Homo sapiens: one gene and its partner. The protein of the gene in region 1 purifies or fractionates together with the protein of each later gene. This does not show direct contact. Each region holds a gene or a part of one and is shown on either strand. Other genes may lie near its edges. The genes, in order: GMFG and CLSTN1.

Region 1 (4,281 bases):
GGCCTGATCCAACCCTTTCTTCCCCCAGGATACCTGGGCTGTCTCTCCGGCAACTCCATTTTGAGCTCCTCTGGGGAAATGTTCTGAGGCAAGAAAACAGAAGAAAAGACAAAGAATGAGGCAGGGCGCAGTGGCTCACACCTGTAATCCCAGCACTTTGGGAGGCCGAGGCAGGCGGATCACAAGGTCAGGAAATCATTCAGACCATCCTGGCTAACAGGGTGAAACCCGTCTCTACTAAAAATACAGAAAATTAGCCAGGCATGGTGGCATGCACCTGTAGTCCCAGCTACTCGAGAGGCTGAGGCAGGAGAATTGCTTGAATCCGGGATGCAGAGGTTGCAGTGAGCCGAGATCGCGCCACTGCACTCCAGCCTGGGAGACAGAGTGAGACTCCATTTCCAACAAAAAAATTAGCCAGGCGTGTTCAGGAGGCTGAGGCAGGAGAATTGCTTGAACCCGGGAGGCGGAGGTTGCAGTGAATCAAGATTGTGCCATAGCACTCCAGCCTGAGCAAAAAAGATCGAAACTCCGTCTCAAAAAAAAAAAAAAAAAAAAGAATGACCACCTTTAGGTGAGCACTTACCATGTGCCAAGGCATCGTTCTATGAAACACACATGGATTAATTCATGCAACTATCCCGTAAGTCTGTGGGGTAGGTCCCATCATTATGCCCACTATACAGCTGAGAAAACTGAGGCCCAGAGGTGTTAAGGCATTTGCCCAAGATTGCACAGATAGAAAGCAGCAGAGTTGAGATTTGAATCTGGGTTCGAATCATAACTGCTTCACTATACTGCCTTTCAGAGGGCCTGAGAGAGCCCCAGCCCCCAGTCTCCATGGATTCCCTTATAAATCCTTATCGCAACACTAGAGAAATAAGCCTTATTATCATTCTTGTTATTGATAAAGACAGTGAGGCCACCAGGGGGGTGAGGTCTACCCCCTTTTTTTTTTTTGTAGAGATGGAGTCTTTTTTTTTTTTTTTTTTTTTTTGAGACAGAGTCTGTCGCCCAGGCTGGAGTGCAGTGGCACGATCTTGGCTCACTGCAAGCTCCGCCTCCGGGGTTCACGCCATTCTCCTGCCTCAGCCTCCCGAGTAGCTGGGACTACAGGCACCCGCCACCACACCCAGCTAATTTTTTGAATTTTTAGTAGAGACGGGGTTTCACCATGTTAGCCAGGATGGTCTCGATCTCCTGACCTTGTGATCCGCCCGCCTCAGCCTCCCAAAGTGCTGAGATTACAGGCGTGAGCCACGGCACCCAGCCGAGATGGGGTCTTGCTTTGTTGCCCAGGTTGGTCTCAAAACTCCCAGCCTCAAGCAACCCTCCCACCTCAGCCTCCTGTGTAGCTGAGATCACAGGTGCACACCACTGTGCTTGGCTAATTTTTGTATTTTTAGTAGAGTTAGGGTGTTACCATGTTGCCCAGGCTGGTCTTAAACTCCTGGGCTCAAGTGATCCTCCTGCCTCAGCCTCCCAAAGCGCTGGGATTACAGGCATGAGCCACCATGCCTGGCTAGCTTTTTAACTTATATGGAAACTCTTTCATTTAAATGCCAATAAAGCATTATTATCATCATTATTAAGATCATCATCACCTTATTGAGCACATACTAAGTGCCAGGCCTTGTTCTAAACCCATTACAAGAATTAAATCACTGGATGTAAAAACAAGCCTATGAGATAAGTACTATTCTCCCCATTTCACAGATGAGGAAATAGAGACACAAACAGGCAAAGTCTCTTGCTGGGGGTCATGAGTGAGCTAGAACTTGATCTCCAGGGTTTTTTGTTTTTTTGTTTTTTGTTTTTGTTTTTGAGACAGAGTCTTGCTCTGTGGTTCAGACTGAAGTGTAGTGGCACAATCTCGGCTCACTACAGCCTCCATCTCCCGGGTTCCAGCGATTCTCCTGCCTCGGCCTCCCAAGTAGCTGTGATTACAGGTGCCCACCACCATGCCTAGCTAACTTTTTATATTTTTAGTACAGATGGGGTTTCACCATGTTTGCCAGGCTGGTCTTGAACTCCCAACCTCAGGTGATCCACCTGCCTCGGCCTCCCAAAGTGCTGGGATTACAGGCATGAGCCACTGTGCTCGGCCAATCTCCAGGTCTTTCTACCCCCATGCCAGGCTCTTCATATCAGTTCCAACCACTTGGTTCTCCCAGTCTCACCCTGTACCTCCCAGTCCCAATCACCCCAGCCCATCACCTGAAATTCTTCCTCCAGCACCACCATCTGCCGGTCTTTGTCCACCTTCACTGGGGAGGGGTGGCACACAGGGATTAGACACTCCCCCTGATCCATGGGGGACACAAGCCCAGCCCTCCCTATCTGCCCTCACCACCGCCCTCCCATCCTTCTGTGGGGGAAGATGTCACTCACTTATGATGGCTGCATTGTCTGTCTCTTTTCGGAAGCGGAATTTCCTCAGCTTTTCTGTTAGCTCTGGGTCTACCTCGCACACCACCAGGGAGTCAGACTGCCGGAGGGACCCAGGAAGAGCTGAAATGGCCTGGCCTCAGCCCTCACCCCTTCCCCAAACCTGTTTCTCCATCCACTAATGAAGAGGAGCATCGCGCCGGCCCATCTGATGCCTTTGTGAACATTGAGAAAAGGCACCCTTCCCACAGAGTAGATACCCCTCACCAGGGCACTCAGCTTGGGGGGCGGAGCAGAGGCTGGGTTCCCGCCTTCTCCACGGGGACTCTTGGGGGACACTCAAGGAGGTGCAGAGATCCACTTCCTGAGCCTAAACCCAGAGCCACTGTCTCTCTGTTCTTCCAGCCGGGCTGTTCACCACAGTTGGGCCCCCTTCCCGGCCCGTGACCTCCATCCCATAGCCTGACCTTCGCCCAGGTGTCCTCCAAGCCCCAGCCCCAACCCCAGCCCCAGCTCTTCCCATAGAACCCCTGGCCCCTGACCATGATTGTTCTGTCCACAGGCCTCTTCTTTTCTTAGTTCCGCTGTCTTCTAGGCGTGGGGACCGGGGCTGTAGGGGGGCGGGCTGTGCAGTAGGAGGAAGGTTTCATCCAACACCACATCCTGTTTATGCCCTTTCTGGGACAACTGTCACAGAGGGCTCCTCCCCCTCCTTCCTTCCCCTCATCTGCCAGGACCTGTCAGGAAATCGCTCAGACCAGGGTTCCAAAGCTTCCTTGCTGTGTGACCCTAGCTAAGTAACTTCACCCCTCTGATTTGAGATTGTGGTGAGGATATAAATAGCTTCACATCGGCCGGGCATGGTGGCTCACACCTGTAATGCCAGCACTTTGGGAGGCCGAGGCGGGCGGATCACCTGAGGTCAGGAGTTGGAGACCAGCCTGACCAACATGGCAAAACCCCATCTCTACTAAAAATACAAAATATTAGCCTGGCATGGTGGTGCACGCCTGTGATCCCAGCTACTCGGGAGTCTGAGGCACAAGAATTGCTTGAATCCGAGCAGCAGAGGTTGCAGTGAGCCAAGATCACATCATTGCACTCTATCCCAGGCAATAAAAATACAAATAAATAAAAATAAATAAATAAATAGCTTCACATAGCTGCCAGCATGGCAGACACAATAGGTACTAAAAACGAACTATTTTGCTCCTCCCCTCCTCCAGGTGGCCTTCCTAGATTTACCCCCATCTGGGATATTTGAATTGCAGGGCTGGAAAAGGGGAGTTTAGTCTTTTGCTGGTCAGACTGACGCCCATTATGTCAATGGCAAAATGGGGACCAGAGGGGCAACCCCACAGTGCCTGGGTAATGGTGACTTTTTTCCTGCACTTTTCCAACCTCACTAGCCTTGCAATGACCTATGAGGCCCTACAACAAGGGAGTTCAATCCCGTCAGACCGGTACCCAATTTTTTTTTTTTGAGACAGGGTCTCACTCTGTCGCCCAGGCTGGAGTGCAGTGGTGCGATCTCAGCTCACTGCAACCTCCGCCTCCCAGGTTCAAGCCATTCTCCGGCCTCAGCCTCCCAAGTAGCTGGGACTACAGGCACGTGCCACTACGCCCGGCTAATTTTTGTATTTTTAGTAGAGATGGGGTTTCACCATGTTGGCCATGTTGGTCTCGAACTCCTGACCTCAAATGATCCACCTGCCTCAGCCTCCGAAAGTGCTGGGATTCCAGGTGTGAGCCACTGTGAGCCACCATGCCCGGCTATTTTTTTTATTGAGTATTTTTGCACTGCCCCCTTTTCCCATCCCGAAATAAAATTCCTAGATAATATAACCTACTTACACACATAAATTCAAAAAAAAATCAATATAATGTCCTGAC
Region 2 (3,808 bases), on another chromosome or scaffold:
AGTAAATTTTAAATAGACGTCTCTCTTTTTTTTTTGTTTTGAGATGGAGTCCCGCTCTGTTGTCTGGGCTGGAGTGCAGTGGCGCGGTCTTGGCTCACTGCAACCTCCACCTCCTGGGTGCAAGCAATTCTCCTGCTTCAGCCTCCCAAGTAGCTGGGACTACAGGCATGCACCACCATGCCCAGCTAATATTTATATTTTTAGTAGAGACGGGGTTTCGCCATGTTCGCCAGGCTGGTCTCAAACTCTGACCTCAGGTGATCCACCCGCCTCGGCCTCCTGAAGCGCTGGGATTACAGGCGTGAGCCACCATGCCTGGCAAATAGCCGTTTCTTAGAAACCTCAATTCCTAGTCATGATTTACAGTGCCTGATTTCTGTACCAGAATGAGACACATTGCTGAAAATTTGTCCCTTTTCCTTTTCAGTTTAAGAACAAGGTTTAGTGTAACCTGTTTCTGGCTCTTTGTTGTCATCTGTCAAGGGCCATTTTCTGGGTTTTGGTTTTCGTTGTAACATCTGCACTTCTCAGCAATCCTCAGGAGGAGGCAGGAAGGATGGGACTTAACACCATAGCATCCTTGAAATAGGCCGTTCCATGCAGGGAGTATTTTAAGCCTCCCTTTTATCCTCCCTGCCTCGCTTGTGTGGGTTCATTCCCCAGGGCGTGCCAGGTAGAGAAAACAGCCATGTGGAACCCAGCCAGCTGAGAAGGCAGTGGCTGGAGAGGCTGGTGGCGTAGGAAGTGTCACCATGCACCCTGGTGATGAGAACAGGGTAGGCCACCTTACCAGGTAGTGGCCAGAGGTGTGGGGACCCTCAGGGGACCTCTTGGCTTCAGGTGAGACACCCCCAACTCTCCCTTTCTCCAGGCCATGTGCATGATCATAAACGGTTTAATTTCTTCATTGCGCTTCCATGTAGATTGCAAGGCTAACAGGACTTGGTATGAACTAACCCGCATGTCCATCCACTGAGCTGCCAGCACCGGTAACACCGTGTTGAGTGAGAAGTGAGTTGGGCGATGCTGGGTTGCACGCCTGACTTCGCCTTTTCTCCCCTGACCCAAAGGTGGCGACCTGCACATGACCCAGTTTTTCCGAGGCAATCTGGCTGGCTTAACTCTCCGTTCCGGGAAACTCGCGGATAAGAAGGTGATCGACTGTCTGTATACCTGCAAGGAGGGGCTGGACCTGCAGGTCCTCGAAGACAGTGGCAGAGGCGTGCAGGTAACACCGAGCGCTCGACTGCACACCACTCATGGGCCCCTTAGACTACAGCCCCGGAGGCTGGTGGGATGAGGGAGTGAGTAATCTGTGATTGATACGTTTACTGTTGGGTAAAAGAGTTGTGTTCACTGGACTTAAACGAGCTTTTCTTTTTCAAGTCAGCAATTCAAATCGAACCCAGGCCAGTCCCCTTTGTGGAGGCATCTGTGGTTTCAGCTCCTGCGGTTACTGGCTTATTCTTCTCCTCTCTGTGGCTGGTGTGATTTCAGATCCAAGCACACCCCAGCCAGTTGGTATTGACCTTGGAGGGAGAAGACCTCGGGGAATTGGATAAGGCCATGCAGCACATCTCGTACCTGAACTCCCGGCAGTTCCCCACGCCCGGAATTCGCAGACTCAAAATCACCAGCACAATCAAGTACGTCCTGATTTTTAACAGCCGGCCTGTTTTGCCCAATGACACTTGTATATTTAGGTTTTTAAGACAGCCTAACCCCTTCTGTAAGGAAAGGTGAGCCATCGTGTGTAACCAGAAAGTGTGGGGCAGAGAGCTGAGTGATATTTACGCATCTTGTTTGCAAGTGTGTTCCTGGAGTGGCCCCGGCAGGTGTTAGTGGGGGCCTCTGTATCCCACCTCCATGTGCCTTTGCACAGGTGGGCTCCAAGATCGGCTCCCAAAGCCCTGACCCTTCCCCATTTCTTGCTGGCAGGTGTTTTAACGAGGCCACCTGCATTTCGGTCCCCCCGGTAGATGGCTACGTGATGGTTTTACAGCCCGAGGAGCCCAAGATCAGCCTGAGTGGCGTCCACCATTTTGCCCGAGCAGCTTCTGAATTTGAAAGCTCAGAAGGGGTGTTCCTTTTCCCTGAGCTTCGCATCATCAGCACCATCACGAGAGAAGTGGAGCCTGAAGGGGACGGGGCTGAGGACCCCACAGGTAATGTGCTCTGTGGGGCGCGGGCTCCCTCGCCTCGGCCGGAAACCCCATTGTCCCCATGTACTTGGCGGGGCTCTTTGTCTCTGTGGGATTTGGGGAGGTTTTAATCTTTCGTTGGTGTTCTCTCGGGTGTGCTTCTGGAATCTGACCCGTGAGCTGGAGCTCATGGTGATCTCTGGAATCCCATCTGGAGGGGTCTTACATCTTTTCCTGGTTGCTGCCAGGCTTTGAGATGTGGCTTGAGGTTGAGGGGTTGAGGGCACTTACGGGAGACACTGCTTGCACCTGCCAGGCTGGCCAGCCCATGGAGGCACAATGTCCCCACAATTCTTGCTCAGGACACATGAAACTCCCCCCCTTTTTTTTTTTTTTTGAGATGGAGTCTCACTCTGTCGCCCAGGCTGGAGTGCAATGGTGTCATCTTGGCTAACTGCAGCATCCACCTCCTGAGTTCAAGCGATTCTCCTGCCTCAGCCTCCCGAATAGCTGGGATTACAGGGACCTGCCACAACGCCCGGTTAATTTTTGTATTTTTAGTAGAGACGGGCTTTCACCCTGTTGGCCAGGCTGGTCTCAAACTCCTGACCTCAGGTGATCCACCCGTCTTGGCCTCCCAAAGTGCTGGGATTACAGGCGTGAGCCACTGCGCCCAGCCGTTTCTTGAAAGCAACTCTCGCTTGCTTCTGTCGTTGGTCCTTACGAGAGCCATGTAGGTTTGGGGTGAGCCGGCAGGGCATCCAGTGTGCCCCGCCACGCTGGGCCCCACTGCCCCTACTTAATATTTCTGGTTGGGCCTCTTTTGCAGTTCAAGAATCACTGGTGTCCGAGGAGATCGTGCACGACCTGGATACCTGTGAGGTCACGGTGGAGGGAGAGGAGCTGAACCACGAGCAGGAGAGCCTGGAGGTGGACATGGCCCGCCTGCAGCAGAAGGGCATTGAAGTGAGCAGCTCTGAACTGGGCATGACCTTCACAGGTAAGGGGAGCGCTGCAGCCACGCAGGTGGGCCAGGCTGCAAGAGGGGACTTTGAGAGCTCTTGGCTGGCTGCTGCCTGCCATCTGAGAATGTTGAGTTATCTTAGAGGGAGATGGGGAAGGAGCACGTTCGCTGGGATCATTGTTGGCTGCACGCATACTCCTGTCTCCTGGACAGGTACCGGATGTGTAGCCACTACTCTCTAAAGGGGGAGGGTTGAGGCGTGGGATGACACGTCCCCCACAGAGGGAAGAATGCCCCTGTGCACATTGCATTTATTCCCATGGCTAGAAAGCCAACTTGTGTGACCCCTTGGCCTAGCTAACCTGGGTGTCTAATTGAGCCTGCCTGTGCTGACGGCTGCAGCCCTGCCCATGCTCCTGCCCTAAGCCACCCGGCAATCTTCCCCCTTTCAACCCCTGCAGGCGTGGACACCATGGCCAGCTACGAGGAGGTTTTGCACCTGCTGCGCTATCGGAACTGGCATGCCAGGTCCTTGCTTGACCGGAAGTTTAAGCTCATCTGCTCAGAGCTGAATGGCCGCTACATCAGCAACGAATTTAAGGTGGAGGTGAGTACAAGGCTCCCACTGAGCAGGGCCAATAGCAGCAGTGAGTGAGGGCGCTGATTTGCAGCCCTAATATTCACAAACGCCAACCTCAGAGCA

The links.
Region 2: the proteins of GMFG (region 1) and CLSTN1 purify together in Homo sapiens (affinity purification with mass spectrometry; one large-scale study listed by BioGRID and IntAct). This does not show direct contact.

Annotation. Positions count from the first base shown.
Region 1 is NC_000019.10:39,333,044-39,337,324, forward strand, and holds the start of GMFG (glia maturation factor gamma), read right to left. Parts: upstream 3,001-4,281; 5' UTR 2,934-3,000; coding exon 2,931-2,933; intron 2,512-2,930; exon of another isoform or gene 2,489-2,511; coding exon 2,392-2,488; intron 2,268-2,391; coding exon 2,218-2,267; intron 84-2,217; coding exon 34-83; intron 1-33.
Region 2 is NC_000001.11:9,733,305-9,737,112, reverse strand, and holds part of CLSTN1 (calsyntenin-1 isoform 1 precursor), read left to right. Parts: intron 1-1,070; coding exon 1,071-1,228; intron 1,229-1,497; coding exon 1,498-1,646; intron 1,647-1,938; coding exon 1,939-2,165; intron 2,166-2,970; coding exon 2,971-3,141; intron 3,142-3,566; coding exon 3,567-3,712; intron 3,713-3,808. UniProt on the Homo sapiens protein: Postsynaptic adhesion molecule that binds to presynaptic neurexins to mediate both excitatory and inhibitory synapse formation.